Linked DNA regions of Homo sapiens. The protein of the gene in region 1 purifies or fractionates together with the protein of each later gene. This does not show direct contact. Each region holds a gene or a part of one and is shown in the gene's direction. Other genes may lie near its edges. The genes, in order: CD4, ARV1, KIAA0319L and CCDC85C.

Region 1 (7,623 bases):
TTTTTTCTCTTTTTCCTCAAGCTGCCTAAGCTTTAGCCAGCATGTGCCTTTTGGTTGACAGGTGGGTTGCTTAGTTTCTTGGCCTCTGTGTGTTTACGTGTCATTTCCTTCCCATAGTTTTAAGTACATGCATGATATGCACTCTGTAGGCATGAACCTTAAGTAGCTAATTACTATACGGGGTCATTTTGAGGATATCTTTTCTCTGTAGTACATGTGCATCTTTTTTTGCAGTGGTGCAATCTTGGCTCACTGCAACCTCCTCCTCCCTGGTTCAAGTGATTCTCCTGCCTCAGCTTCCTAAGCACCTGAGACTACAGGTGCATGCCACCACGCCCGGCTAATTTTTGTATTTTTAGTAGAGATGGGGTTTCACCATGTTGGCCAGGCTGATCTCGAACTCCTGACCGCAAGTGATCCACCCACCTCGGCCTCCCAAAGCACTGGGATTACAGGCATGAGCCACCGCACCCAGCCTAGTATATGCCCATCTCTTAGGAGCTGCTCCTAACTGGTTTGGTTTGGATCTAGCCAGCCATGGGGCTCCTTATTCACTTATTTATCTTCTGTTTTTGCTCACCTGCCTCTTTCTCTTGCTTCTGCTCCTACTCATTCCTTCCTTAATCCAACCTCCAATTCCCTCTGCTATTCTCCTGCCTCAAGTTCACTAGGCTGGCTGCAAGGGTCCTGAGGGAGAGGTTGTGTATCGCCCCTGTATACTCCAGGTCCAGTAAATGTTTGCTGACTAATGATTGGCATTTCCCTCAGGCCCTGCCATTTCTGTGGGCTCAGGTCCCTACTGGCTCAGGCCCCTGCCTCCCTCGGCAAGGCCACAATGAACCGGGGAGTCCCTTTTAGGCACTTGCTTCTGGTGCTGCAACTGGGTAAGTTCTCAGACCTGGGGTCTCAATGCAGATGACGTGGGAGGAAAGGCAAAGGTGGAGGATGGGGTAGAGGGGGACAGCGGCGACATTGAGACCTGACTCCTTTCTTTTCCACTTAGCGCTCCTCCCAGCAGCCACTCAGGGAAAGAAAGTGGTGCTGGGCAAAAAAGGGGATACAGTGGAACTGACCTGTACAGCTTCCCAGAAGAAGAGCATACAATTCCACTGGAAAAACTCCAACCAGATAAAGATTCTGGGAAATCAGGGCTCCTTCTTAACTAAAGGTAGGGTTGCCTGGCTCCCCATCCAGGGAGGAAAACACACTATGGAGTGAAAGCCTTTGGTGTCTGAGATCTGGTCTTAGTTAAACTCTGGGATCCCAGAGGGCTTGGGTTGACAGAAACTCAGTGGCATTCTTATCCAGAGTTTCTCTACACCAACTGCTGGTGGCCCAGGGAAAGGTGGTATGTGAATTTCAATATTTTAATATTTAATATTCATGAACTTATTTTAGTGAGTTTTAGAACAATCACTATCACTTAAAACCCGTGATTTCTTGAGTATTGTTGCTACAGACCTATGTAGATAATACTTTGCACAGTGACTCATATGTATAATCCTAGCACTGTGGGAGGCTGAGGCCGGAGGATTGCTTGAGTCCAGGAGTTCAAGACCAGCCTGAACAACATAGTGAGACTCTGTCTCTATGAAAAAAAATATATATATATTTTTTTTGGAGACAAGGTCTAGTTCTATCACCCAGGCTCCAGTGCAGTGGTGTGATCTCGGCTCACTGCAATCTCCACCTCCCAGGCTCAAGTCATCATCCCACCTCAGCCTCCCAAGTAGCTGGGACTACAGGCATGCACCACCATGCCAGGCTAATTTTTGTATTTTTTATAGAGACAGGGTTTCACCATGTTGGCCAGGCTGGTCTCGAACTCATGAGCTCAAGTGATCCACTCACCTTGGCCTCTCAGAGTGCTGGAATTACAGGTGTGTGTCACTATGCCTAGCCAAAAAAAATTTTTTTAATTAAAAAAAAAAAGGCCGGCTGTAGTGGCTCACACCTGTAATCCAGAACTTTGGGAGTTTGAGGTGGGCAGATCACCGGNGGTCAGGAGTTCAAGACCAGTCTGGCCAACATGGTGAAACCCGGTCTCTACTAAAAATACAAAAATTAGCCAGGTGTGGGGGTGCAGTCCTGTACTTCCAGCTACTCAGGAGGCTGAGGCAGGAGACTCGCTTGAACCTGGGAGGCAAAGGCTGCAGTGAGCTGAGATTGCACCACTGCACTCCAGCCTGGGTGACAGAGCAAGACTTCATCTCAAAAAAAAAAAAAAAGCTGCANATTTATTATTATTATTATTAGTTTATTTATTTATTTTTTTGAGACAGAGTCTCGTTCTGTCGCCCAGGCTGGAGTGCGGTGGCGTGATCTTGGCTCATTGCAACCTCCACCTCCCGGGTTCAAGTGATTCTCCTGCCTCAGCCTCCCGAGTAGCTGGGACTACAGGCGTATGCCACCATGCCTGGCTAATTTTTTGTACTTTTAGTAGAGACAGAGTTTCACGGTGTTAGCCAGGCTGGTCTTGATCTCCTGACCTCGTGATTTACCCTCCTTGGCCTCCCAAAGTGCTGGGATTACAGGCGTGAGTCACTGTGCCCGGCCCAGAATCATTTTTTTCTACTTTTTTTTTTTTGAGGCAAACTCTCGATCTGTTGCCCAGGCTGGAGTGCAGTGGGCATGATCTTGGCTCACTGCAAGCTCTGCCTCCCAGGTTCAAGCAATTCTCCTGCCTCAGCCTCCTGAGTAGCTGGGACTACAGGCGTGTGCCACCATGCCCGGCTAATTTGCGTATTTTTAGTAGAGACCGGTTTTCATCATATTGGCCAGGCTGGTCTTGAACTCCTGACCTCAAGTGATTCTCCCACCTTAGCCTCCCAAAGTGCTGGGATTACAGGCATGAGCTACTGCACTTGGCCTTTTCTCCTGGTTTTAAAACTATTATATGCTCATTACAAAATATTTGGTCAATGAAGAAAAGAATATGGAAGAAAATCAAATGCATGCATACTTCTATCACTCAGAGATATCCTCTGCTAACATTTTGATTGATTTTCTTCCAATCTTTTTTTTTTTTTTTCTTTTTGAGACAGGGTCTCACTCTGCTGCCCAGGCTGGAGTACAGTGGCATGACCACAACACATCACAGCCTCAAGTGATCTTCCCACTTCAGCCTTCCCAGTAGCTGGGACTACAGGTGCACGCCACCATGTTCACCTAATTTTTTACTTTTTGTAGAGATGAGACTTCACCATGTTGCTCAGGCTGGTCTTGAATTCCTAGGCTCAAGTGATCTTCCCGCTTTGGCCTCCCAAAGTGCTGGGATTATAGGTATGAGCCACTGCATGTGGCCTATTTTCTTCCACTGTTGTTCGGCGTGGAGAATATTATATACATAATTACGTAAATGATATCATACTGTATATACCTTTTTTCCTACTCCTTCCTTAAGTTATATCATAATGAGACTACCAATTATTAGACTTTTTTTCTTTTTTTTGAGACGGAGTCTCGGTCTGTCACCTAGGCTGGAGTGCAATGGCGCGATCTCAGCTCGCTGCAACCTCTGCCTCCCAGGTTCAAGCAATTCTGCCTCAGCCTCCCGAGTAGCTGGGACTACAGACACGTGCCACCATGCCCAGCTAACTTTTTTATTTTTTTATTAGAGACAGGGTTCCACCATGCTAGCAGGATGGTCTCAATCTCTCGACTTCGTGATCAGCCCGGCTTGGCCTCCCAAAGTGCTGGGAGTACAGGTGTGAGCCACCGCACTCGGCCTAGACTAACTATTTAAAGTAATCTGGCAATGTTTAACGAATACAAAACTCTAAAACCCTTGGACCTAATAATAGCTATTTTGGAAAGTCTACTTGACAGAAATAAAATTGTGAATATTCTTTTTTGTTGTTTTTTTGAGACAGAGTCTCATTTGGACGCCTAGGCTGGAGTGCAGTGGCATGATCTCGGCTAACTGCAACCTCCACCTCCTGGGTTCAAGTGATTCTCCTGCCTCAGCCTCCTGAGCAGCTGGGATTACAGGTGTGCACCACCATGTCTGGCTAATTTTTGCATTTTTAGTAGATGGGGTTTCACCATGTTGACCAGGGTGGTCTGGAACTTCTACCCTCAAGTGATCTACCCACCTTGGCCTCCCAAAGTGCTGGGATTACAGGTGTGAGCCACCACGCCTGACCAGTGAACACTTAATAATATCTATGGAAAGGTGTTATTATAAGAATTGCTTGTGGGGCCGGGCGTGGTGGCTCACGCCTGTAATCCCAGCACTTTGGGAGGCTGTGGCAGGCGGATCACGAGGTCAGGAGATCAAGATCATCCTGGCTAACACGGTGAAACCCCGTCTCTACTAAAAATACCAAAAAATTAGCCAGGCGTGGTGGCGGGCACTTGTAATCCCAGCTATCCAGGAGGCTGAGGCAGGAGAATTGCGTGAACCCAGGAGGCGGAGGTCGCAGTGAGCTGAGACCGTGCCATTGCACTCCAGCCTGAGTGACAGAGTGAGACTCCATCACAAAAAATAAATAAATAAATAAATAAAATATAAATAAGTAAATAAAGGTCAGGAGTGGTGGCTCACGCCTGTAATCCCAGCACTTTGGGAGGCCGAGGTGGACAGATCATGAGGTCATGAGATCAAGACCATCCTGGCTAACACAGTGAAACCCTGCCTCTACTAAAAATACAAAAAGTCATCCAGGTGTGGTGGCACACACCTATAGTCCCAGCTACTTGGGAGGCTGAGGCAGGAGAATCACTTGAACCCAGGAGGCAGAGGTTGCAGTGAGCTGAGATCGCGCCACTACACTCCAGCCTAGGCGACAGAGCAAGACTCTGTCTCAAAATAAATAAATAAATAAATAAATAAATAAATAAATAAATAAAATAAAAAGCACACACACACACACACACACACACACACAATGCAAAAGACCCACCCTACTACAACTAACATTATATTTAATGGTGAAAAACTGAATTCTTTCTCCCTAAGTGCAGGAATAAGACAAAGATGTCTGCTCTTACTACTCTTATTCAACATAATACTGCAATCCCTTGCCAGTGCAATAAGGCAAGAAAAATGAAATAAAAGGAAAACTGATCAGAAAGAAAGAAATAAAACTGTTCCTATTTGTGGATGACATGATTACATAGAAAATCTCAAAGAATCTGTAAGAAACTTCTTAGAATTAATAAATGAATTCATCAAGGTTGCAGAATATAAGATAAACATAAAAAATCTATTGTATTTCTATATATTAGCAAGGAACATGTGTACACAGAAATTAAAACTACAATACCATTTATAATTGCTCAAAAAGGCCAGGCATGGTGGCTCACACCTGTAATTCCTGCACTTTGGGAGGCCAAGGTGGGAAGATTGCTTAAGCCCAGGAGTTCAAGACCAGCCCGGGCAACATAGTGAGACCTTGTCTCTACAAAAAGTAAAAAATTAGCTGAGCATGGCCGGGTGCAGTGGCTCACTCCTGTAACCCCAACACTTTGGGAGGCTGAGGCGGGCGGATCATGAGGTCAGGAGATCGAGACCATCCTGGCTAACACGGTGAAACCCTGTCTCTACTAAAAACACAAAAAATTAGCTGGATGTGGTGGCAGGCGCCTGTAGACCCAGCTACTCGGGAAGCTGAGGCAGGAGAATGGCGTGAACCTGGGAGGCGGAGCTTGCAGTGAGCTGAGATTGTGCCACTGCACTCCAGCCTGGGTGACACAGTGAGACTACGTCTCAAAAAAAAAAAAAAAAAAATTAGCTGAGCATTATGGTGTATGCCTGTAGTCCCAGCTACTGGGGAGGCTGAGGTGGGAGGATTGCTTGAGCCCTAGGAGGGCAAGGCTGCAGTGAGCCATGATCACACCACTGCTTTCCAGCCTCGGTAGGAGAGCAAGACCCTATCTCAAAAAAAAAAAAAAAAAAAAAAGAAAAGAAAAGAAAAGAAAAGAAAAAGAAAGAGAGAAAGAAATACTTAGGTGTAAATCTAAAAAACATGCGTAGGGCCAGGTGCAGTGGCTCATGCCTGTAATCCCAGCACTTTGGGAAGTTGAGGCTGGCGGATCACTTGAAGTCGGGAGTTTGAGACCAGCCTGGCCAACATGGTGAAACCCCGTCTCTACTAAAAATGCAAAAATTAGGCAGGTGTTGTGGCGCATGCCTGATCCCAGCTACTTTGGAGGCTGAGGCAGGAGAATTGCTTCAACCCGGGAGGCAGAGGTTGCAGTGAGCCAAGACTGTTCCACTGCACTCCAGCCTGGGCAACAGAGTAAGAGTCTGTCTCCCGAAAAAAAAAAAAAGAAAAAAGAAAGCATTGAATTGTATGCTAAAAACTACACGATGCTGATTAAAGAAGTCAAAGAAGATCTAAATATATGGAGAGACATGCTGTACTCATGGATTGATGGATTGGAAGACTCAACATAAGAAAGATATCAATTTTCCCCAAATTAATATACAAGTTTAATCCAATTCCTATAAAAATACCAGCAAGATTTTTTGTAGATATAAACAAGTTGGCCAGGTGTAGTGGCTTACACCTGTAATCCTAGCACTTTGGGAGGCTGAGGTGGGAAGATCGCTTGAGCCCAGGTGTTCACGACTGCAGTGAGCTATGATTGTGTCACTGCATTCCAGCTGGCACTCCAGCCTAAGTGACAAAGGGAGACCCTGTCTCAAAAACAAAAACAAAACCAAAATAATTTTGCTCTGCAAAATCCCTATTAAGAAGAAGAAAAGAGGCTGGGCACAGTGGCTCACCGCTGTAATCCCAGCACGTTGGGAGGCTGAGGCAGGCTGATCACTTCAGCCCAGAAGTTTGAGATCAGCCTGGGCAACATGAGGAAACCCCGTCTCTACCAAAAAAAAAAAAAGGTACATACACACACACACACACACACACACACATACACAAGTATATACACATATATATACACATACAGGTGAATAGATGTATATACATCTATTTATTGTGAATATACATCTATACACACACGTGTGTGTACACATATATTTAAAATTTATTTTTATTTATTTATTTATTTTTGAGACAGAGTCTTGCTCTGTCACCCAGGCTGGGTGCACCTGTATTCCCAACGACACAGGAGGCTGAGGTGGGAGAATCACTGAGCCAGGGAGGCAGAGGTTGCAGTGAGCCAAGATGTTGCCTGGTTGCCTGGGCAACAGAGCGAGACCCTATATCAAAAAAGAAGAATAATAAGAAAAGACAGTTTACAGAATATAAGAAAATATATTCACAATCCACATACTTAGCAAAGGACTGGTATCTAGAATATGATAAACAACTCTCAAAACTCAAAACCAAAAAAATGAACAATTCAATTAGAAAACAGGCCGAAAAGGACATACAGTTGGCAAATAAGCACATGAAAAGTTGTTCAACATCATTAATCATTAGGGATATGTACATTAAAACCACAATAGGCTATCACTAAACCTATCAGAATGGCTAAATACAAAATTGGAACACCACCAAATGCTGATGAGGATGTGGAGAAACTGGGTCATTCTTCCAATATTGGTGGGAGGCTAAAATGGCAAAGCCACTCTGGAAAACAGTTTGATAGTTTCTTATAAAACAAAACATGCGGCCGGGCGCGGTAGCTCACGCCTGTAATCCCAGCACTTTG
Region 2 (7,623 bases), on another chromosome or scaffold:
TCTCCCTACATCATCCTTGTACCTCTTCAGTCTTCTCTCCACACAGTAGCCAGGGACTGATCCTTTAAAAATGTAATTTAGATCATATCATCTCTTTGACCAAAACTTTCTGATGATTTTCCATCTCAGAGTTAAGGCCTGAATCCCTGAACTGGCTTATAAGGCCCTATGGAGTCTCCTGCTACTCTTTCCCTTCTTTATTTTACCGGCAGTCCCGCTGGCATCCTGGTGTTTCTCAGACCAGGCAGGTTCCTTCCTCAAGGCCTTTGCACAATGCCTGGAGCACTCTTCTATCAGGTATCTGCGTGACTAATTCCCTTACCTCCTTCAAACATCTCAGAGAGTCTACTCTGACTACCCTATTGAAAAGTATGATATGCTTCCCAGCTTTATCTTTCTCTATAGCACCTATCTTCTTGTAATCTTGTATATAATTGACTTAATGTTGTGTGTCTTCTCCTACTGGAAAGTAAGCTACACAAGGACAGACATTCTCTCTGTTTTATTCATTAATGTAGCTGTATCACCCAGAACAGCGACTGACATTTAGTAGCCACTCAGTAAATGTCTGTTGAATAAATGTATCACTTCCAGGTTTTTAGATTAGCATATGCTTGGCCATCCAGGTAGGAGGAAGAGAACAAGATCTTATATGTGGTCTAAACTTAATAACTTTTGGACTGGTCCAATTAAATGGTCAGTTTGGAAGATGATAACCACATAACTGAATATGGTCTGAAGAAAAGCTGGTATTTGTATATGCATTTTAGTTAGTAGTCTTCAATAATACAAAAAATCTCTTTTTGTTGGCATTAAGCTAACAAAATCCCTTTGCTAAACAGCAGGTGTTTATTTTGTTTATGGAAAGGCAAAATAATTATTGGATAGCTGTTTAGGTCAACATTCACTTACCCCCTCCCCTTTGTTCCCTAACATGATACTCTTTCTCCCAAGAGATGGACTTTGGAGTTATATTTGGAATATTGAATGGTGGCACAGTACTTTATGGATTCGTTATTGTCCACAGTCATTCCATAATGAGACAGAGTGTCTAATGGCCTTGTCGCTATCATGCTAATGCATACTAAACTTTAGGCCATAATAGCACGACTCAGGGAAAATCATTTTGTTGATGCCAGACTAAAAAATTAAACCATGAAGCAATGAATTATTTTAAAGGCCCTCCAACCTCTGAGATACAAAAAGTAAGAAGTTTTTAAACATTAGACCATGTGTTGTGACATAATCTCCAGAGTTTCTAAGTGGTTACTCATATATACTTTGGTCTCTTCCCTGCCGAACTTGGAGTCAGCAAGATCCTCAGCCTGATCGCCCACGTGTATTTTTCATCCCAATCTCCTTTCCTTTTGCTCTGCTTGTTTCTTCACTGCCATTCCTCCCAGCTTGCCTTTCTGTGTTTCTCTGACTTTCCTCTAATATATCATGTGTCCCTTGCTTTTAACCAATCCTGCTGCTTCAGCTCTTCACAATTTATTATAAGTACGCTTAAAGATACAGTACTTTCGGCCTAGCACGGTGGCTCATGCCTGTAATCCCAGTACTTTGGGAGGCCAAGGCAGGCGGAGCACGAGGTCAGGAGTTCAAGACCAGCCTGACCAACACGGTGAAACCCCATCTCTCTAAAAATACAAAAATTAGCCAGGCGTGGTGGCGCACTCTTGTAATCCCAGCTACTCGGGAGGCTGAGGCAGGAGAATCTCTTGAACCCGGGAGGCAGAGGTTGCAGTGAAGCTGAGATTGCGCCACTGCACTCCAGCCTGGATGACAGAGTGAGACTCCGTCTCAAAAAAAAAAAAAAAAAGTACTTTTTATTTGCTATAGGGCTTGGCTTATTTTAAGTGCACAGATATTTAACAAATTCATTATTATGTTAACAAAACAAAACTCCTATAAGAGTCTCCTAAGTTTCCATTTCCTTCAGCACTACAGCATTCGGCTCCCACCCTTGGGATCCTAGATGCAAAGATGAATAAGACACAGCCCTACCCTTGAGGAGCTTAAAGACTTAAAGAAGGGAAGGGAATGCTCCTAGAGATGACAGGAAGGAAACAGCAGGAATATTTATGAAAAAAATTGGTTTGGCCGATTTATATTCTAAAAGAGATCTGATTCATTAGGCATTGGAGAACACAGCAGGACAGAGGAAGTCATATCCATGTTTAGACAGGTGATGGAAGCAGCCTGAATTCCCAGAGTATGCTTGGTCCTTGCGTTGTAGGGATTCTTTAGAGGAAGATTTTTCTCTTTTCAGGATACTTGCCTATAAAGTAGTAAATGAAACAATTTTGCCAAAATAAGAAACATAGGAAACATAGTTGCTAAATCTGGGCAGGCGTGATGATTCACACCTATAATCCCAGCACTGTGGGAGGCTAAATCGCAGATCACTTGAGGTCAGTAGTTCAAGACCAGCCTGGGCAACATGGTGAGACCACCCCCTGTCCCCCACCCATCTATACTAAACTACAAAAATCAGCTGGGCATGGTGGCACGCGCCTGTAGCCCCAACTACTCAGGAGGTTGAGGTGGGAGGATCACTTGAGCCAGGGAAGCAGAGGCTGTAGTGGGACAAGATCCTGCCACTGCACTCCAGGCCTAGGCGACAGAGTGAGACCTTGTCTCAAAAAGGAAAGAAAAGAAAAGAAACATATATACTAAATTGAATAAATACAACTCCCAGTGGTCTGCTTTGGGATGTCTACATTTGTTTGTTTCGTGTGTGTGTGTGTGTGTGCGTGTGTGTGTGTGTGTGTGTGTGTGTGTGTGTGTGTGTAGTTTTCCTCTTCACATTCAAGGTGAAGGCAGAGGGAAAGGAAGTTGCAAGCAGCACTTAAGGGAAAAGCAAATAATAGAGGGAGAACAAGGAAAGTGAGGTGTAAACTTGTTGTGCCCAGGGGTGTTAGAGAGAACGCCACACTTTGAGACGAATTAAGAGTCCTTTATTAAGCCGGCGGCCAAAGAGACAACTAATGCTCAAAATTCTCTCGGAAGGGGCTTGATTAACTTTTATATCTAGGTTTAGGAAGGGGAGGGGGACTCAAATGCAATAATTCTACAGAAGTAAAAACATGCAAGAATCAAAAGAAGCAAAATGGTTACAGAGAGATAAACAACTTAAAAGACAAATGGTTACAAGAAGAGCAACGGTACCAGGTGCAAGGTTCTAAATCCTTCATTATAATTAGATATAGGGTCTATGCCGGACACGAACTCAAGGTTTTATGTTGTTATCTCTTTGAGAAAAATCCTGGGAACTTCATACATTGTTGGTGTTAGTACCTTATCAGTTAATTGGGCTTTTTTGAAATGCTGATTATCTGTTTACCCAGGCCAACTCCTTACGGAAGGGGGTTGGGTAATGAGCCCTTAGTGTCTTGTAAATTAAGAGGTCAATTGGAGTTTGTCCGGCCTTCCCAGCTAGAGAGAGTCTTACTTACATGAGAAGCAAAGCTAGGTGATTAAAGAGACAAGCAGGACAAAATTCAAAGTAACGAGTTAGAGTAAAAACAAGGTTAGGCGTTTCAAACTGACTGAGAGGGAACCAGCAAACTTTAATGACTTCTCAGCATTTATAAAACATGCCGAATGCTAAGAAGGGAAATGGGCAAAGCACACAGCATATCACATACTACCAGAAGCTGCCTCCTCTGTTTGATTTCATATCACCCTGTGCTTATCCCATTGTAGCCGTTGGATGTTACATAGTCTGATGACTGTGGTCATGAGACCATATCATAGAGGCATGTTTGTCTTCTGCTTCTAAACTGTTAGATCCTTGAGGATAGAAACTGTGGCTGAAGGTGAATATCTAGCACCTTGGAAGTTCCTGGTCCATAAAATGGCCAAGAAAAGAGAACGATTGTTATACATGTAATAGCCACTCCAAAGACATTTGTCAAACAAATGAATGCAAAAGGAATAACAGCTGCTGTGTCTCCTGGTGCTGGTTTCTGCCTACCTCCTTCCAAGTATTGTCCAGATCCCCAGCCTTAGACTTGTGATGCTGTCCAAAAACGGGTTTTAGAGAATATTTAAAGGACAGAGAGAGGACCCCTGACTTTTTAGGGTTTCCATTTTAACATGAAGCAGCCTCTCTGGTGTCCCAGTCTTGCATGTAGAAAGGAAGGAGATGTGTTCCATGTGAGTAGCCAAGGGAGACCTATCAAACAGCTGTTTGTCATGGACATGGAATTTCTGATTCTGGGGCTTCTGTTTAGATTCTGGCTTACTCCCTGCTCAGGTAAAGAACTGCAAAAATATTAACTCCTTATGCGTCAGTTTGATTAAGCAGAATTTTTTTTTTTTTGAGACGGAATCTTGCTGTGTTGCCCAGGCTGGAGTGCAGTGGCGTGAACTCAGCTCACTGTAAGCTCCGCCTCCTGGGTTCACGCCCCATTCTCCTGCCTCATCCTGTAGTTGCTGGGACTACAGGCACCTGCCACCACGCCCTCCTAATCTTTTTGTATTTTTTTTTTAGTAGAGATGGGGTTTCACCATGTTAGCCAGGATGGTCTCGATTTCCTGACCTCGTGATCCACCTGCCTCGGACTCCCAAAAGTGCTGGGATTACAGGCATGAGCCACCATGCCTGGCCCTGATTAAGCACATTTAAGTTTGAGGTAACAGCACGTCTCCCTTCATTGGATCACTCGGTAACTGGAAAACATACCTATTCTTGTAATGACACAAATGAAGTGGAGAAGCTATTTAAATTGGGAACACATCCAATGTTTTATTACATTTGAATTGCAGGGTCGGTATTCTTCAGTGCCCTTCATTTTTCTTCCAGCACTTTAATGTAATTAAAAGGCCAGCCTAGAAGGTTTTTACACTCGCAACTCTTCTATTTTATCTTCTCAGAGTTTCCAAATGTTATGCGTTTGAATTGTAGCCATTCCAGTAGTCCCCGTTCTCTTTGGGGTATATGTTCCAGGACCCACAGTGAGTGCCTGAAACCACAGATAGTATGGAACCCAATTACCATCCATCGGAACACGTTTCTGTTCGTGCCTTCCACCCACAAATGTAATACTTTTCCTATTTTTTTTTTTTTTTTTTTTTTTTTTTTTTTTTTTTTTGAGAGAGAGAGACCGAGACAGGGTCTTGCTTTGTTGCCCAGGATGGGCTCGAACTTCTGGCTTCAAGCGATCCTCTCACCTCGGACTCCCAAAGTGCTGGTATCACAGATGTGAACCATGGCACCTGGCCCTGCCTTTTCCATCTTAGCACTTCTCACATACTGTGGCCTTAATTTTTGCAGTTTGAAATGCCACAGCAAAACTAGCACAATTTCTTTTCTTTACAGTTGCACAGGTAGAAGATTCATTCTTACTGTAGATCTTAACCTCAGCATAAGATTGGTTTTTTCCTTATTAGTTGAGAACTTTCACCTTTTCACTTAAAGGATTTTACAGCTTCTCTTTGGCTGTAAAATTGCCAGCATCACTACTCTCATGCTTTGGGGCTATTATTAAGTCAAAGAAGGGTGACTTGAACCACAAGCACTGCAGTACTGCAATCCTCAATCCTGTTAACCTGGACAGCGACTAGATGACTAACAGGCGGGGAGCATCTGCAACGTGGACACGCTAGACAAAGGGATGATTCACATCCCGGACAGTGGAGCAGGACAGCATGCAATTTAAAACTTATGCTTATTTCTGGATTTTTCCATTTCATATTTTCAGAATGCTGTTGACCTCGGGTTACAAACTGCAGAAAGCAAAACTGTGGCTACGGGAGGACTGCTGTAGTTTTATAAAGTGAATGGTAGCATTGATGCATTTTTGTGAATAGTACTGCTTTAGAGGTCACATTTCTAATGAGCTTGTTTGTGTATACCTGCGTTTTTTATGTTCTAGTGATGTTGGAATTTGGTAACATTGTAATCACATGTGTCTAGAGAATCTGAACTCAAAATTGGTGACCCTTCAGGGGGGAATAAAGCCATTTAATGTGAACTGCTAAGAGCCAAGGGAGCCTTGATTCTGGAACCTAGAGCTAGGCTGCACAGCCTAGTTCCTTGCACAGCCCAGCACTCTCCAGACTGTACAGACAGTAGAGTCTGTCTCTACTCTAGCAGAGAAAGACCATTTTCTTTCCATATCCTTGATGTTACTGGAGAAAAACCCAGGCTTCCCCTGTTACCGGCCACCTCAGGATCATTCGGATCATGCCCCATTCTTTACCTACTTGCAGCTCTCAGTAGTTCTGGGGACAAGGTAACTGCTGAGTACTTTTCTCCAAATCATGTGCCAAGAACCATAAAGTCAGGGGCATCTAGCCAAGAGGCAACAATTTATCAATGAAAGTGCATTATAAATATATTTATTTTGTAATAATTGCTACAAATTGAAAGTGGAATTGGACATAGAGTCTCTGTAGATTGAAAGTAAAATCTTCTGGAATACTTTCCTGCCTAAACTCAGTCTTTAAATTAGATATATTTTTAGCTTCTTGAATATGACGTTAAAATATTAATATTCCTAGCCTAGAAGATTATATTTAGTCCTTTCTGAAACCCTTTCTTATATAGATGAACATTTTGTATCTGAATGGAAGTTTATATAAATAATTGCTAATATGGCCATATTGCTATCTGTGTCCAAAATAGACTCTGCTGTTTTGAAATCCTTGAGGATTTCAGAAAGTATACATTTGCTTGTTCTAATATTATCTTGTATTATTTCAGAAATCCTGCCAGAAACCTGTAGACAAATATATCGAGTATGATCCTGTTATCATCTTGATTAATGCTATATTGTGCAAAGCTCAGGCCTACAGACATATTCTTTTCAATACTCAAATAAATGTAAGTTGTGATAATTTCATTTTTTAATTTTATTTGATGCTGTTACATTTTAAAAGAATAATAAGAATTTTAAACAGAAGTAAAGAATATTATAAAAGAGGAAAAGAAATTCTAATGTGAGAGTGGGTCTTTTATTGCAACATATCTGGAAGTTTCTAGAAATAATAGATGTTGATTTTGAAAGGTGCACAATGCTTAGTGAGTGTTTAAGAATATGGTCACTGGCAGGAAACTGACAAGCCATGATCTGAATTACCTGCTAGTAAATTGAAACAATCATCACTGGTTTTTAACAGAATACAATTAGACATATCCAGGTAGGGAGAGAATTATACCTAAATGAGTTAAGCAAACATTAAAAGAAAAATGTTTTTTTAAAACATAATTTATTGCATTTTATACTTTGCTATTAAAGGAATGTATAAGGTAAATAACATTCAGTTTAATCAAAGTCCTGATTTATAAAGTTGAATTTTTCAAAATAAACTTTTAGTTTATTGAATTGTGAGCTCTTTAATAGTTTGGGTAGAGTTGACAGATAACATACAGGACAGTCAATTAAATTTGAATTTCATATATACCATGAATTAATTTTTTAGTATAAGAATGTCCCAAATATTGCATGGAACATACTTATACAATAAAAATGGATTCATGGTGTGTGTGAAACTCAAATTTAACTGGCGGTCCTGTTATTTTATTTATTTATTTATTTTTGAGACGGAGTCTTGCTCTGTCACCCAGGCTGAAGTGCAGTGGCGTGATCTCGGCTCACTGCAGCCTCTACCTCC
Region 3 (7,623 bases), on another chromosome or scaffold:
TGCCTGTCTGGAGGGCCATGGAGAAGAGGCTGGGAGTCAAGCCAAATCCTGCTTCCTGGATTTTATCAGGATATTATTGGCAGACATCTGCGAAGTGGTTGAGAAGCCTGTACCTGTTTTATACTTGCTTTTGCTTCAGCGTTCTGTGGTTGTCAACAGGTACTATTTTCTTTATAGATTTAAGATTTTTTTTTTTAGAAAAGGGCATTTTATGTGAGTCCCTCAGTTCATTTTAAGGACTATTAGGAGGCAGAAAAAACAATCTGCTAATTGACAGAAATGGTCATCCTTTTGGTGACTGAGGTCTGTTGGGTTTATTTATTTGTTTTGTTTTGGAACCAGAGTTTAAATTGGATTCTTTTTCATAAGGGAGAATTGGCACAACCGTTTTAAGACTTGATAAAAGTCAACTGGGTATTTCCACTTAATGACTATAAAACCTTGAGCAAATTACCTATTATCTTTGAGGAAGGGTTATTATCTACCTCATGGTTTGATTTGAGGGATAGTATAATTAAAGCATGTAGCACAGCACTCAGCATGGGTGCTTAGTCTTGCTATTTGCCCAGGCTGGTCTTGAGCTTCCTTTCCTTTCCTAAAGGAATCTACACTTATGGGAAAAATGCGTTCCTTACTTTTTCCATAGAGAGGGGCTATGTTGATAGATTTTTTAGACTATGCTTTCCTCCTAGAGATTATTTCACCAGGGTAAAGCCTCTTGCCAGGAATCAGTGCCAAGAAGGCTAAATTTCAAAGGAGAATGCCCTTTCTTTCTTTCTTTCTTTCTTTCTTTCTTTCAAGTTCTTTTGTTGATATTGTGCTTTCATAGTATGAGTGTGAGAAAACAGCAATATGAGAAAGATTTCTGTGTATGCTGCCATTCTGGCCAGTGACCAAAAACCTTCTGCTGTAGAGACCACCATCTGGGATAACTAATCAGCCTTTTTCCCTTATAATTACAAAGATTTCTGTTGCTTTCCTAAAGGAATTGGTGGTCATGATTTTGAGACCCTAGTAATTATTGTATTTAGCAATTTCAGTAACATCAGCTTTGGGGTTTTTGTTGTCTTGCAGTGATGGTTGATGATTGCATAATTATAGCAGTGGAAGTTGTACTTGACAGAAAGCTGATCTACATGGTTTTTTTTTTTTTTTACCCCAGATGATGCTTTGCTGGGACAGCTGACTATTTCAGGTCAACATTTTATATAAGATCATTAGAATTAAATAAGTAATTGATTTAGCACCATCAGAATAGGGAAAAATCACTTCTTTAAAAAAAAGAGATGGGGTCTTGTCACCCAGGCTGGAGTGCGATGGTGCCATCATAGCTGCCTGCAGCCTCAAACTCCTGGGCTCAAGCTGTCCTCTTGCTTCAGCCTCCAGGCATGAGCTAGTATGCCTGGCTAATTTTTTTTTTTTTTAAGACAGTGTCACTCCATCATCTAGGCTGGAGTGCAGTGGCACAATCTCGGCTCACTGCAAACTCTGCCTCCCAGGTTCAAGCGATTGTCCTGCCGCAGCCTCCTGAGTAGCTGGAATTACAGGCGCACACCACCACACCCGGCTAATTTTTATATTTTATCCTTTTTATATTTTAGTAGAGGTAGAGTTTTGCCATGTTGGCCACACTGGTCTCAAACTCCTGACCTCAAGTGATCTGCATGCCTCGGCCTCCCAAAGTGCTGAGATTACAGATGTGAGCAACTACACCCGTCTGCCTGGCTAATTTGTACATTTTTTTAGGAGATGGGGTCTTGCTGTTTTGCCCAGGTTGGTCTCGAACTCCTGGCTTCAGTCGATCCTCCAACTTTGGCCTACTGAATAGCTGGGATTGCAGACACCAACCACCATGCCTGGTGTAAATCACATTTTTTGAAGCACACCTACCACATACCAGACTCCTAATTGTAAACATTACATACCTTATCTCATTTAATCTTCATGATAACCCAAAAATAGATAGTTTTCTTCTCATTTTATAGATAAGGAAATTGAGGCCTAGAGAGGCAGAATGACTTGGCCAAGGTCACACAGCAAGAACATGGTGGAGGTAGGATTCTAAATCCAGGTTTGTCCACTGTAGAGCTCATACTCTTTCTCTTCTGGTACTCTGCCTTCCAACCATAGGGGATGTTTTGGAGGACCAAAGGTTTTTTTTTTGAAACGGAGTCTCACTCTGTCACCAGGCTGGAGTGCAGTGGCGCAGTGCGATCTCTGCTCACTGCAACCTCCGTCTCCCAGGTTCAAGTGATTCTCCTGCGTCAGCCTCCCGAATAGGTGGGACTACAGGCGCATGCCACCACACCCAGCTAATTTTTGTATCTTTAGTAGAGACCAGGTTTCTCCATGTTGGCAGGATGGTCTCCATCTCTTGACCTCGTTATCTGCCCATCTTGGCCTCCCAAAGTGCTGGGATTACAGGCGTGAGCCACCATGCCTGGTGGCAATTTTTTTTTTTTTTTTACCCAGTACCATGGTAAGCAGCTTCCTATTTGAGGGATTCAAAGTATAGAGGATGAAGAAGCAATTCCAAGTCTTTCTGTGCTTTCCAATCTAGCACTTGGTTAAACACAGCATTGTAGGCTCATTGTGCAAGTCTTTAGTAACCTTGAGCTTGGTGCTTAAAAACAGCACCCTAATTAAGTATAGAAGTGCAAAGGTGGTGGTGTTAGGTGTAGTTCTGGTGGGGATTAGGTTATGCCAGTTCTATTTTAGAAAAATTTGGAGCTTTTATCATGGAAATTAAAAGATCAAGAGCCATGTATGTTCAAATTGAGGGAACATGCAAGCAACATGTGACAGACATATTTGTTATATACTTTGATTTAATTGGAGCTCCTTCCCATTTTTTTTTTAAAAGGAATATCCTAATAGAAAAAATAAATAGGGCTGGGCGCGGTGGCTCATGCCTGTAATCCCAGCACCTTGGGAGGCCGAGGCGGGTGGATCACCTGAGGTTAGGAGTTCAAGACCACCCTGACCAACATAGTGAAACGCCGTCTCTACTAAAAATACAAAAAATTAGCCGGGCGTGATGGCATGCACATGTAATCCCACCTACTCAGGAGGCTGAGGCAGGAGAATCGCTTGAACCCGGGAGGCGGGGGTTGCAGTGAATCAAGACCGCACCACAGCATTCCAGCCTGGCCAACAGAGCGAGACTCCATCTGAAAGGAAAAAAGAACAAATAAATAAAAGGCATAAACAGAGTGCCATAAATAAGAAGTTAAAATGAATATATTTAAAATGTTCGTTCTCATTACCAATCAAAACGACAGATTAAAATGAGATATCCTTTTAAATCTATCATATTGATGAAAATTAAAGTAAAACTATCCAGTGCTGCCAAGGGGTGATGTGGTTGTCCTCATATAGTGCTGAGGAGTTTGAAAAGAGAACTTCTTGGCATAAATATCAAGAGCCCTAAAAAAATTCATATTTTTCGACTTAATTCTTCATTTAAGAATTTATCTGAAGGATACACTTAGATAGTTGTGAATGAGAGCACTGATCAACAGTCATTTATTCTGTGCTGCAAAATATTGCTGAAACCTGCTTAATTATAGGAGAGTGGTGAAATCTTTGCATCTCCACATGGTGGGATACTATCCAGTCTTAAAATTCATATTTTAAAAGAAAAGCTGGGTGTGGTGGCACACGTCTCTAGTCCCAGCTACTCGGGGGCTAAGATGGGAGGATTGCTTGAGCCTAGGGGTTTGAGACCAGCCGGCAACATAGTGAGGCCCTGTCTCTTTAGAATTAAAAAATGTTTAATAATTTAAAAAAAAAGTACACGGGAAAATGCTCCTAATATTAAATGATAAAATCAAGTTATGCAACTACATATTCAATATGCTGTCAATTTTGTGAAAAGAAGAAAAAATTATGTAATAGAAAACAGTCTGAAACAAGATGTACAACTAAATATTTATGTATTTTTTTGACTAGAGGAATTATTATCTCTTCATATTTTTCTGTGTTTTCCAGGCCTTTCTTTGGTATACTTGTATTCCTTTTTATATAAGGGGGAAAACAACCTACTTGAAAAAGCAACAACAAAATAATAACAGCAAAAACCTATTGGTGGGAGCCTGAGTCAGTATTTCTCTACTCATGAGTTTACTCAGTGTTTACCTGAGTGTTTACATTTTTTTCCGATAAAATACATTCTTGATTCCTGCTGTTATTTAGCTCATGGATTATTTCTGAAAAACTAACCAAATTAAGGCAGCTCTGCAGTTATCCTCCACTCCCGCTTACCACTTAGGAGTTTGCTCCATCTTTGGTAGAGCCCCAGGCAGCTGTTGACTTAGACATGGTGAGCTTTTTTATTTCCACTTTTGGGTTCAGTACTGAAGCCCTACTGTTAGAAAGCATTGATTACAATTTGATAAAAGATGGTCTGTCTGTGTTTTCCTTGTGTGCCATGGAATGGCTATTTTTCTGTTTAATTTTATTGTTAAGTGGCTTGAAAAATAGTGTTTTGGACCTGGGGATTCTCATCTGGAGACAAATAGGAAGTGATCCCAGGAGTTTTGGAAATTCCTACAATAGATTGTCAGCTTCTTGAGAGCAGACATGTTGCCTCTTTTAGTTATGCTAGATATTCTTAGCGGGTACCAAGGCACATAGTAGATGCATAAAATATTTGTTGACTGAATAAATTAATAAATTACCAATAAGGGAATTGTTCTTTGAGAATTAAGCTTTAAAAACAACAAAATCAGAGCAGAGATATGGAAAGGCACTTTAAGGAGACCAATGCTTTTGAGACCAACAAGATTGACTAAAATCTTAACAAATATATTAACACATACAAAGAAAGAATGTATACATCTGAAGAGTTATGTGTGCATGTTTGTGGGGGATGCAAGGACCTAATTGGCCCTAGAAATCTGAAACAGGGAGAATCACTGAAGCCAATGTCCTTAGGCCCAGAGCTAACAGTTGGCTATGAAAACTTGTACTGACATTTCCCTACCTCTGGGAAGGAGATTATACAGTTAGTTAATACGTATTTTGAGTACAGAGATAAATTATTCAATTCAGAACCATTTTTTGAGAACTTACTAGGAGTCTGCTTCTAGACTAGGCACCAGGATAATAAAGATTAGTACAATACAATCCTTTCTCTGGAATAACTACCAGTAGCAAGTGAAAAGGTAGAGGCCAGGTGCATTGGCTTATCCTAGCACTTTGAGAGGCTGAGGCAGGAGGATCACCCGAGGCCAGGAGTTCAAGACCAGCCTGGACAACATAGTGAAACCTCATCTCTACAAAAATAAAAAAAATTAGCTGGTGGTGGTGGGCACCTGTAGTCCTAGCTACTCGAAAGGCTGAGATGAGAGGATCACCTGAGCCCGGGAGTTCAAGACTGCAGTGAACTGTGATCATGTCGCTGTACTCCAGTGTGGGTGACAGAGGGAGACCCTGTCTCTTAAAAAAAAAAAAAAAAGATGCAACGCACAGAGTGCTACTGGAACCGTAGGAGAAGCATTTAGCTTGGAGGCAAAGAGGGTGCTCTAAGGAGTTCTTTCTAGAGAAGCATCTTCTAGAGAAGCTGATGCCTGAACAGAGTTGTGAAGGTTGAATTTGAAGGATTCAAAGGGTATTCCCATGCAATGGGAATGCAAGAGCAAAGGCACAAAAGTGAAACAGCCTGGTATATAGAAGAAACTCCACAAGCAGTTTAGCACTACTGGAATATAAAGAGCAAAGCTGGTATGGCAGCTCCAGAAGAGGTAGGTGGTGGCTAGGTCACAAAGGATCTTGTATGCTATGCTAAGAAGCTTCAATTTTAAACTTTTTAGGTAGATGGTCTATAAATTTTTTTCATGATGCACTTTAATCCATTGAAAAATTGAGAATGTACCCCTGTATATAAATTTATACATTATAACACGTAATTTTATACTAATGTCTTATATATGTGTAAGAGATGCCAAAAACAAAATGTTAAAGGGATTGACAGAAGCAAATATGAAGAGTTCTAATATTTTCTTTTCATGCCCGAGGGATTTGTCTTGTGCACCTCTTAAGGCAAACACTATAATACTTTAATGCTAGTATTAAATATAAAACTATTAATACTGTATTAAATATACTATAATACTGGTAAATTTCTGAATAATTTTTGCAGGAGTATAGAAAAGTGGTAATTGTGGAGATGGAGATGGATGGAAAAGGGAGGGAGGTCAGGGTTAGAGGTTAGGGTATCCATTAGCATGTTAATGAAATAGTCCAGGAGAAAGTTGATGAGACTCTGTCTTCAAGGAACCTCTCAGTAATTTCATTCAATACAAACAAGTAGAGGTAGTCCTAAAGAGATGGGTAGAATTTAGATGTTCTGTAGTAGAGAGATTAGAGGAAGTTTTTTTTTTTTTTCGAGACAGAGTCACACTCTGTTGCCCAGGCTGGACTGCAGTGGTACGATCTCAGCTCACTGCAACCTCAGCCTCCAGGGTTCAAGCAATTCTCCTACCCCAGCCTCCCGAGTAGCTGGGACTACAGGGGTGCACCACCACACCTGGCTAATTTTTGTATTTTTAGTAGAGATGGGGTTTTGCCATGTTGCCAGTCTGGTGTCAAACTCCTGGCCTTGAGCATTCTACCCACCTTGGCCTCCCAGAGTGCTGGGATTACAGGCGTGAGCCACTGCACCTGGCCAAGAAGTTTTTTAAAATTGAGATATACCACTATCTAATTCCAGAACTTTTTTCTCACCCCTAGAAGAAGCCCTGTACCCATTAGCAGTCACTCCCTATCCTCTCCTCCCCCAGCTACTAGAAACCACAAATCTGCTTTCTGACTCTATGGATTTGCCTATTCTGGACATTTCATAAATGGAATCGTACAATACGTGGCCTTTTGTGTCTGGCTTATTTCATTTAGCATAATATTTCCAAGGTTCATCCATATCCTAGCAGGTATCAGTACTTCATTTCTTTTTATGGCTGAATAATATTCTGCTTTATGGATATGCCACTTTTGTTTATCCATTCATCAGTTGATGGACATTGGGTTGTTTCTACTTTTTGGCTATTATGAACAATGTTGCTCTTAACATTTATGTATACATTTTTGTGTGAACATATGTTTTTAATTTTCTTGGATATCTGTATATATAAATACATGTATTTACATATAAATAGTACAATTGCTGGATCATGTGTATATATATATATAATGTATATATGTAATTCCACTCCACTATATGTATATATCCAATTGCACTATAGTAAAATATATATGCAATTTATATATAAATATATATGAAATAAATTTATATATAAATGGAATTGCTGGATTATATATAATCACGTATAATATGTATAATTATATGTAATTATATATGTATATATTACATATATAAATAGTGGAATTGCTGGATCATATATATAATATATGTAATAATATATATGATCCAGCAATTCCACTATTTGTATATAAACATGTAATAATATATATATGATCCAGCAATTCCATTATTTATATATGTATATAAATTTATATATAAAATTTCACTTTTATATATATATTTATATATAGGAGTGGAATTGCTGGATGTTATGGTAACTCTTGGTTTAACTTTTTTGAGAAACTGTTTTCTATAGCAGCTGC
Region 4 (8,348 bases), on another chromosome or scaffold:
TCCCCTCCCCAGAGCTTTGCAAGAGCTCTGCCAAGTGCTTAACACTAGCTCTGTCAGGGAGGGCTTGGATGAGAATACTGGGGCTCTGAGAGGACAAGGGACTGGTCTAGGGTCACCCACCCAGACAGTGATAGAGTTGCAGGGAGACTGAGCTAATGACATGCAGTGTTCTATCAGTAGAAATAGCTGGAGAGCTCTGACCACAGGTGCCATCCAGAGGCGTCAGAGCCACTGAGGCTTGGTCACAACATGGAAAAGCCTGAAGCAGGAGGAAGTGGGTGGTGAACATGGGTCCAGGCACCTTGCAGACACTCAGCATCACAGAACCAGAGTCACAGCAGAAGAGACATCGCAGAGCATCCACCCCATTCCTCCTTCTTGAGAAGGGAAACTGAGGTGTGGGAGACAGTAGTCTATGGGGTCAGATACACTCTGGAGCTCAGATGGTCCTGGGTTCAAATCCTGGTTCAGCCACTTGCTAGCCATGTGACCTTGGGCAAGTGACTTAACCTGTGTGAGCCTCAGTTTCTTACTCTGTAAAATGGGAACAGAGGGTTCTTACCGCATCAGTGAGGAGTCAGTGAGACAATCTATGTGGAACTCTAGCACAGTGCTGGGTACCTAGAAAGTGCCCAGTCAACATTGTCCATATTAGTAACACTTAACCACTTTTCAGTGGACCCTGACTTCTTGCTGCTGGTAGCCTTTCAGGATGATACCTCATAGTCTGGCCCAGACCTGGTCAGCCACCATTGCCTCACTGTCCTGAAGAAGATTCAGCTACCACCAAACACTTTGTTGGCCATACCAGAGTCCTTGGGTGTCCACAAGCCTCTGAACACTGCCTGTAAGTTCACGCCCAATGAGCTGAGCTTCTTGGAGGCAAACAACCAGCCAATAAGAACCCATGTTCAATCCTCGAAGGGCTAATGACACCTCCTCATAGGTTTATTATAACCCTCAAAAGAGGACAGGTTAGAATCATTGGCATATACTGAGTCTAGGATAAGCGGCAGGTGGTGTTGGTTATTGTCATTGTCATTGCCATTATTATTAGATATCAGAGCTCCCAGGGAAAGGGTCCAGCTTCCTTCTGAGGCTTACAAAGCCCTCCTCTGCCCAGCTCCATCGCTCAACCTCTTCCCGACTTTCCCCACCCTGCTGTTCCCTTCTGTATACCCCAGCTGCAAGGTGTAATAGTGTCTCTCCACACCCCTCGCCTGCTCACCTCTGGGCCTTTGCTTGTACTGCTTCCTCCACCTGGAGCCTCCTCCCCACTCCACAAGACGACAAACTCCTTCAAGATTCACCTCCTCTAGGAAGCCACTCCCAGTGCCTGAGCATGCTCCCACAATGATGTGTTCTGCCCATTCTCATTTGCAGTACTTACCACAATGCATTGCAATGTGTATATATATATTCCCATTTAAATGTGTTTGTGTATAAATGCATATATACTCATAGATTTCCTCTATGTTCAGTGAGCTAATGAATGAAAGTGACCTTGGGCCAGGCATCTCCCTTCTGGGGCTCTGTTTTTCCTCACCTTCAAAATGAAGCCTCAGACTCAATCTGTCACGTACTGAGAGGTTTGACATTCACTCAGCAAACACCAAATGGTACTGCCTCTGGGGTTGGAGCTCACAGCCCCAACCATAGAGAAGAGTAAGAAAGTCCATTCCCCCTGAAAGTGAGGGGCACACTCTGCTTGTCACCAGCTTGTACCAGTACTCCCCCCACAGGCCCTAGGTTTTGGAGTATTTTGTCTACCATGTATTAGCATCTACCGTGTGTTAGCGTACCGGTTCTCAGCCCCTGCTGGCTCTCACAAATGTGTGTGGCTCTAAATGAACACACACATCCTGGGAGAGTCTTTAAAAAAAGGGGGGTAGAATGTTGGTGGGGCACCTTTATTTTGAAAAGACTCACAGCTACTTTCCCTGGGCACCTACAGTATGACTGTTAGTGCACCATGATTTGGTTTCACTGTTTTCATAACAAAGCAGAGTTGTCATGACCAAGGGGCTTAAGAAGCAAAGTCACTGAGGCAGGAGAATTGGATTGCTTGAGCACAGGAGTTTGAGACCAGCCTGGGAAACACAGTGAGACTCTGTCTCTATGGGGGAAAAAAGAAAAGAAAAGAAAATAGCCAGGCATGGTGGTGCCTGTGGTCCCAGCTACTCAGGAGGCTGAGGTGGGAGGATCTCTTGAGCCCGGAGGTTGAGGCTGCACTGAGCCAAGATCATGCCACTGCACTCCAGCCTGGGAGACAGAGTGAGACCCTGTCTTAGCCAAAAAAAAAAAAAAAAAAAAAAAAAAGGCAAAGTCACGTTGACATTTTGGGATCCTGGTTCTGTTGGGCTGTGAGTACTCCAGGGGGCATGGCACCTACTGCTGGACCCTGCGATATGGGCCCTCCGGGAGGGGGCTCTGGCCTGGGGAGTCCCTTTTCCTTCAGGACGCTGTTTCAGCCCTGGGCCCTCTCACCTCCTCTGGTCCTGTCCTGTTCTGCCCAAGCATTCCCAGCCCTGGTGTGGGGAGCAGAGAGACCCTCCCTCAAACCACCCAGTACCACCACCACTAGCACCTTGTCTTTGTTCTACCCTGAGGATGTGAGCAAAGCTATCAAGACTCCACAGAGGAACTCTTGGTCCTTGGTCCACACAGCCTGTAGATGACGCAAACAAACCCCACCTAGATAGAGGCTTCACTTTCTTCTTGGAAGTTCAGCGGAAGCTGCCAGCTCTGGAGGATCAGGGGGCAGAGATAACAGGCCCCAGGAACCACCAGGAGCCATGCACGAACGGGGAGGGGGTTCTCACAAAGCACAGTGCTGTCTCAGCAACTTCCCTGGTGAGCTGGTGGGTTTTTCCTATGGTGTATCCAACGTTTACGCTTCGATCTCCAGGGAGCAACTCTGTGCACAGGCTTCATTCTGCAGGGAGCCTGCAAGGAGCTCCTTGAAGTTAATATGGCTTCCTGGGGGTTGAGACAGACCTGCAGCTCCCCCAGGCAGAAGCTGAAAGCCCCTCCCTCTCTAAACCCAAACTGAGCTGTGCTGGACCAGCAGAGCAGTGCCTCAGAGGGGAGGATGTCCCCTCCCCTCAGGAGCTGGTTCTCTTGGGCAGGGCCTGGGAGACCCTCAGCATCCCTGGGGTTTAACCTTGGAAGCTGTGCTCAGCCCATCCTCTCCCCACCACCCTCCCCTGACCATCTGTCTGGAGAGAGTGGCGAACGGGTGGGAGATGAGATATTGAATCTGGACCTCTCTGTGTACTCCCCTCCATCTCTTCTCAACATGTGGGCCAGGGTGAGCCTCTTAAAAAGGTAAACCAGGTCATGTTGCTTCCCTGCTAAAACCCCACTGCCTCCCCAGCTGTCTTGGAATCATACATGATCTGGCCCCTCTGACCTCTGACCTCAGCTCTCACGCCTCTTCCCTGGCCCACCCCCAGCCCCACTGGCCTTCTTGGAACAGGTCTGTAACAGGCCAGCCCTAGGGCCTTGGCACTGGCTGTTCCTGCTGCCTGGAATGCCCTTCCCCTTATCTTTGTACCTTGCCAATCAGACTTCAGCTTAGATGTGCCTCCCCACCTCCCTGACCGCTGGATCTAAAGCAACTGATTATGCTTTCTATGACAGCAGCTCGACTTAATGCCCCGCACAGCACTTAAGACAAGTCTCATCCTGATCTAGCTCGTCTATCTTCTCCCCATCCTGCTCCCAGGACGCCAAGTCCCCCGCAGAGGGCAGTTCGGTGCCCTGCAGAATCCCCCGGGGCTGGAGCAGGCCCCGCGGCGAGTAGGCGCTGAGTACACAGCTGAATGAACGGCTTAGCAACTGTAAATGGGGCATCAGCTGCTGCGCGGGCGCGCGCTCCAGGCCGTGGGCCGCTCACTGTCGCGTGCGCGGATTTGATCTCGTTGCAGGTTCCGGGGGAGGGACCCCCCCCCGCCCCGCCCCGCCCCGCCTGCTGGCGGTAGACGCGCCGTAAATGCGCTTTGGGGACCGGAGGATAACGAGACAGACTTACAGGCAGTGGGAAGCCCGGGGGTCCCGCGAGGCCGCCGGTGGGGAGTTCTGTGGCCGGCTCGGCGCCCCCGGACCCCGGCGTTCAGGCCCCAGTGGGAGACCTTCCCACCCTTCCCAGTGGTTTCCACCCCGCGAATTGCAGATTATCTCCCGAATCCCAGGGATTTAGCGGTCGAGTGAGCGGAGGTGGAGCGGGGCTCCGAGCGCCGCTCCGGGCAGGGGGCAGGTTCCCGGAGCTCTCGCCCCATCGGGGCAGAGAGTACTGACCGCGCTGCGGGACGCGGCTGGCAAGGCCCTGGCCCTGCAGGGGCGCGGACGCCAGCGTTTAGCTCAGCCCTGGGCTAGGAGTGGAGACGCAGCCCCGCCGCGTGCTCCGGCAGGGGACCCGGGTGGGGACGGGGGCGGAGGAGCCTGGGGGCAGGGAAGGGGACAAAGAGCCGCCCTGCTGCGGGGAAGAGCGACCCCCATGTCACAGTCCTATTGTTCGCTGTGTCTCCGACTGCCCTGAACTCTGGTGCCCCCGGGAGGGAGAAGGGGCGCCGTCGCCCGGATCGTGGGTATTTGTTTATCTGGGGAGAGGGAAGAGGACCGGGGACGCGGGCCGGGGAGGGGGCTCGACTGCTATTTTCGCGCGTCGCCTTTAAGGGAAGCCCGGCCCTACCTTTCCCACCGTCCCCCTCCCCGCAGCCGTACCTGCATTTTAAAAGCGCCCTGTAGCCCTGGGATTGGCTAAGGCCGCGTCCTCCGGGCGCAGAAACTTGAACCGCCGGGAGCCGGCCGCGGGCGGGGGTCGGAAACCCCGCGGATGGACCGTACCACCGCCGCAGCTTCCCCCGCGCGCGCCCCGCCCCTCCCGCACACCCCCGGAGCGGCCCAATCGCCCGGCCGGGAGGGCGGGACCGCGGCCGGAACGCGCCTCTGAGAGGGCACTGGACGGGCGGGCGCACCGCGCAGGGGGACGGCGGGGGCCGCGCCTCTGCTCCCCAGTCGCCCTCGGGGGCGGGGCCGGGCCTCGGAGACCCGCCCACTCTCCGCCCGGGGTGGGCGGGGCGGCGGGGGCTCCGGGAGCTGGGCCGGGGGCGGGCCTCCGCCTGCTTCTCCAGAACCCTGAGAGCGCCCGGCACCGCGGCCGCCGACGCAGCAGCCGCCTCCGCTCGTCAACCCCGAGGCGCGCGGGCTCCCGGGCGGCCCCGGCGGGCGCGGCGAGAGGACGCGCCAGGCGGCGCGGGGCGGGCCGCACGCGCCCCCGGCCGCCCCCCGCCCGCGCGCGGACCGGCCCAGCGGAGCCCCGGCGCGGGGAAGCGCCGGCCGGGCGAGGGCGAGGGCGATGCCGCGGTGACGGCCCCGCCATGGCTAAGCCCGCGGCGACGGCGGCGGCGGCGTCGGAGGAGCTGAGCCAGGTGCCGGACGAGGAGCTGCTGCGCTGGAGCAAGGAGGAGCTGGCGCGGCGGCTGCGGCGCGCCGAGGGCGAGAAGGTGGGCCTCATGCTGGAGCACGGCGGCCTGATGCGCGACGTGAACCGGCGGCTGCAGCAGCACCTGCTGGAGATCCGCGGCCTCAAGGACGTGAACCAGCGGCTGCAGGACGACAACCAGGAGCTGCGCGAGCTCTGCTGCTTCCTCGACGACGACCGGCAGAAGGGGCGCAAGCTGGCGCGCGAGTGGCAGCGCTTCGGGCGCCACGCGGCCGGCGCCGTGTGGCACGAGGTGGCCCGCTCGCAGCAGAAGCTGCGCGAGCTCGAGGCGCGCCAGGAGGCCCTGCTGCGCGAGAACCTGGAGCTCAAGGAGCTGGTGCTGCTGCTGGACGAGGAGCGCGCGGCACTGGCGGCGACGGGGGCCGCAAGCGGTGGCGGCGGCGGCGGGGGCGGCGCCGGCTCCCGCAGCTCCATCGACAGCCAGGCCAGCCTGAGCGGGCCGCTGTCGGGTGGCGCGCCCGGCGCGGGGGCCCGCGACGTGGGCGACGGCAGCAGTACGTCCAGCGCGGGCAGCGGCGGCAGCCCCGACCACCACCACCACGTCCCACCCCCGCTGCTGCCCCCCGGGCCGCACAAGGCCCCCGACGGCAAGGCAGGAGCCACACGTCGGTCCCTGGACGACTTGTCGGCGCCGCCGCACCACCGCAGCATCCCCAACGGCCTGCACGGTAAGGACTACACGGGCCGGGCAGCGCGGGTCTCCCTGGCTGCAGCCCTTTTCCCAGGCTGCGGCGAGAGGAGGTGGTCCCTGGCTGTCCCACTCATGCGGCCGCCACTCCAGACTCCTCCAGCTGTCATGGATCCTGGGCCAGGGGATCCCGCACTCACCCAAAGTGGGGCTTTGGGCGGTGGTGGGCCGGTTCAGTGGTGGAGCGTCTTTTTGTCCAGCTCAGAACCTGCTGCCGGTCCGGTCCCAGAAAAGTTTCTAGCGGGTGTAGTTGCCAAAATTAGGGTCTGTCACTGCTGGGCTGGCGGTGGGCGCCTCATCCCAGCCTTGGAAATCCTTGCCTAGTAGCGGGAAGTTCTAAACAGCAAAGGATACAAGGCCCCTTGAGCGCAAGTGAATTTCCCCTCTTGCAGCAACAGGTGTCCTCCAAACCAAGCAGCGTCCACGTGTGTGCGGTGGCTGGAGTTCTGCAGTGGGGTGTGGGGATTGGGAAGGTGCACAGGCAGCCGCTTGAGACCCAGAGGCAGTTGGGGAGAGGCCTGGGGCTCAGAGCCTTTCTTGTTTGCCATAAATTCCGCCCTTCTAGTCCTGGGACCTTTCTCAGCCGAGACTCTAAGACTTTCCCGAGGGAGATGTATTTGGAACGGATTCTAGCTTTTCTCCTCTGTGTGCCTCAGTTTCTTTGTCTGTGAAATGGAGATGATGACCTCTGCCTCGTGGGTTTGAGGTGGAGATAAACCTTCTGAAGGGATTTATAAACTGTTGATCGCCTTACAGGAAGTGCCGTGGTCATCCGTGACCAGGGTGTGGGTGGGAGGAACTTTGGCCTCTGTCAGCTTCTGTCTTCTACGCCCATGTTACTGCTGCGCCCAGTGCAGAGGGTGGCCCCAGCTTGGGGCTGTGGGAGCTTGCAGCCTGCTCCCTCTCCCAGCCCCCTGCTCAGCCCTTCTGCTCCCTGCCAGCTTTCTCCTCCTCGCTGGTGGATCCGGGGCCTCCCTGTTCTTCCACGTTTTTTGGTAGCTTGGCTTCCAGTTCTGCTGGTAGTTGCAACTGCCTGAACTTTTTGCCTGAAGGTGGAGAATGAACAGCTCTTTCTGGTTCCCTTTAAAGCCTTTCCTAATTCAGAGAAAGTGTGTCTAAGCCTGCAATAACTGCCCTCCCCAGAACCCCTCAGCCTGAGCTGGGGAGGGACGTTTTCTCCTTAGTTTGGTGGCCAAGTGGCCTCTGCAGACGTGTTGGGGTGGGGGCTGGGGTGGGAGACATACCCATGGAGGTGGGGCAGGGGCAGTGCAGCATGTTTTTCCTTTATTTACCATCCTGAGCCTGTGGGTTCAAGGCAGGACTGGGTTTAGAGGGATATTTTGTTACTGATTAGCAATCTATGGCTACAACTCAGGTTTCTCTTTGTAACACTGTATCCACCCCCACCTCCCACCACAGGCTGCTTCAGGGCAGTGGGAGTAGCGCAAAGTTAGGTGGTTTAATTTGCTGGGGCTGTTCAGAGCACCTCAGCCCCTTTGATTTTGCCGTCCTGGGGGCTTTTGAGGGGTCAGTTATCTGGGCCTCGGTTTCCCTAAGTGCAGTCCAAAGAGCAGATTGCTGCAGTCTCGTGGCTGGAAAGTGAAATGTTTCTGGTTTTCAGCTGCGTCATCAATGACACTTGGCAAGAGTGCCTCTCTGCAGGACACTGGAGGGCTGGAGTGTTTAGAGCATACTTGCAGGAAAGGCTCTGTCGAGTTTTGGGCAAGGAGATGCGGCCCCAGTCTGGCTCAGCATGTCAGCTGCGACAGTGAATAATACAGGAGTGGAGGACTAGGCTACACTGAGTTTTCCACCCCACTGGGGGTCAGTGGGAGGTTGAAGTATAGGGTTTCCCACAGAACCCATCCTCCCCCAAGCCCACTTAGCACAGGACTGCTGCAAATGTTGTGGCAGCAAACCTTGCTTTGGGGTGAAATGAAAATTCAGCATTATTATTACAAATTTCGGTTACAGATGGAATTATTATTATTTAGTTTTGTCTCTTAAAGCCATGTGTGGCCTTGGGATGTGGTCCCACTAATGTAAATGGAAGGCTTGGAAACCAGGAAAGGCCCTTCTCTTAGAAACTGAGCTGTTCTTTCTTTCTTTTTTCCCTTTTTTCGAGACAGGGTGTCACTCTGTCACCCAGGCTAG

What was found.
Region 2: the proteins of CD4 (region 1) and ARV1 purify together in Homo sapiens (affinity purification with mass spectrometry; 2 studies listed by BioGRID and IntAct, with this or other methods). This does not show direct contact.
Region 3: the proteins of CD4 (region 1) and KIAA0319L purify together in Homo sapiens (affinity purification with mass spectrometry; 2 studies listed by BioGRID and IntAct, with this or other methods). This does not show direct contact.
Region 4: the proteins of CD4 (region 1) and CCDC85C purify together in Homo sapiens (affinity purification with mass spectrometry; 2 studies listed by BioGRID and IntAct, with this or other methods). This does not show direct contact.

The regions. Positions count from the first base shown.
Region 1 is NC_000012.12:6,799,304-6,806,926, forward strand, and holds part of CD4 (T-cell surface glycoprotein CD4 isoform 1 precursor), read left to right. Parts: intron 1-234; exon of another isoform or gene 235-320; intron 321-768; 5' UTR 769-835; coding exon 836-884; intron 885-1,003; coding exon 1,004-1,168; intron 1,169-7,623. UniProt on the Homo sapiens protein: Integral membrane glycoprotein that plays an essential role in the immune response and serves multiple functions in responses against both external and internal offenses.
Region 2 is NC_000001.11:230,981,608-230,989,230, forward strand, and holds part of ARV1 (protein ARV1), read left to right. Parts: intron 1-6,712; coding exon 6,713-6,832; intron 6,833-7,623. UniProt on the Homo sapiens protein: Plays a role as a mediator in the endoplasmic reticulum (ER) cholesterol and bile acid homeostasis. Participates in sterol transport out of the ER and distribution into plasma membranes.
Region 3 is NC_000001.11:35,546,886-35,554,508, reverse strand, and holds part of KIAA0319L (dyslexia-associated protein KIAA0319-like protein), read left to right. Parts: 5' UTR 1-17; coding exon 18-159; intron 160-7,623.
Region 4 is NC_000014.9:99,600,993-99,609,340, reverse strand, and holds the start of CCDC85C (coiled-coil domain-containing protein 85C), read left to right. Parts: upstream 1-5,133; 5' UTR 5,134-5,381; coding exon 5,382-6,174; intron 6,175-8,348. UniProt on the Homo sapiens protein: May play a role in cell-cell adhesion and epithelium development through its interaction with proteins of the beta-catenin family. May play an important role in cortical development, especially in the maintenance of radial glia.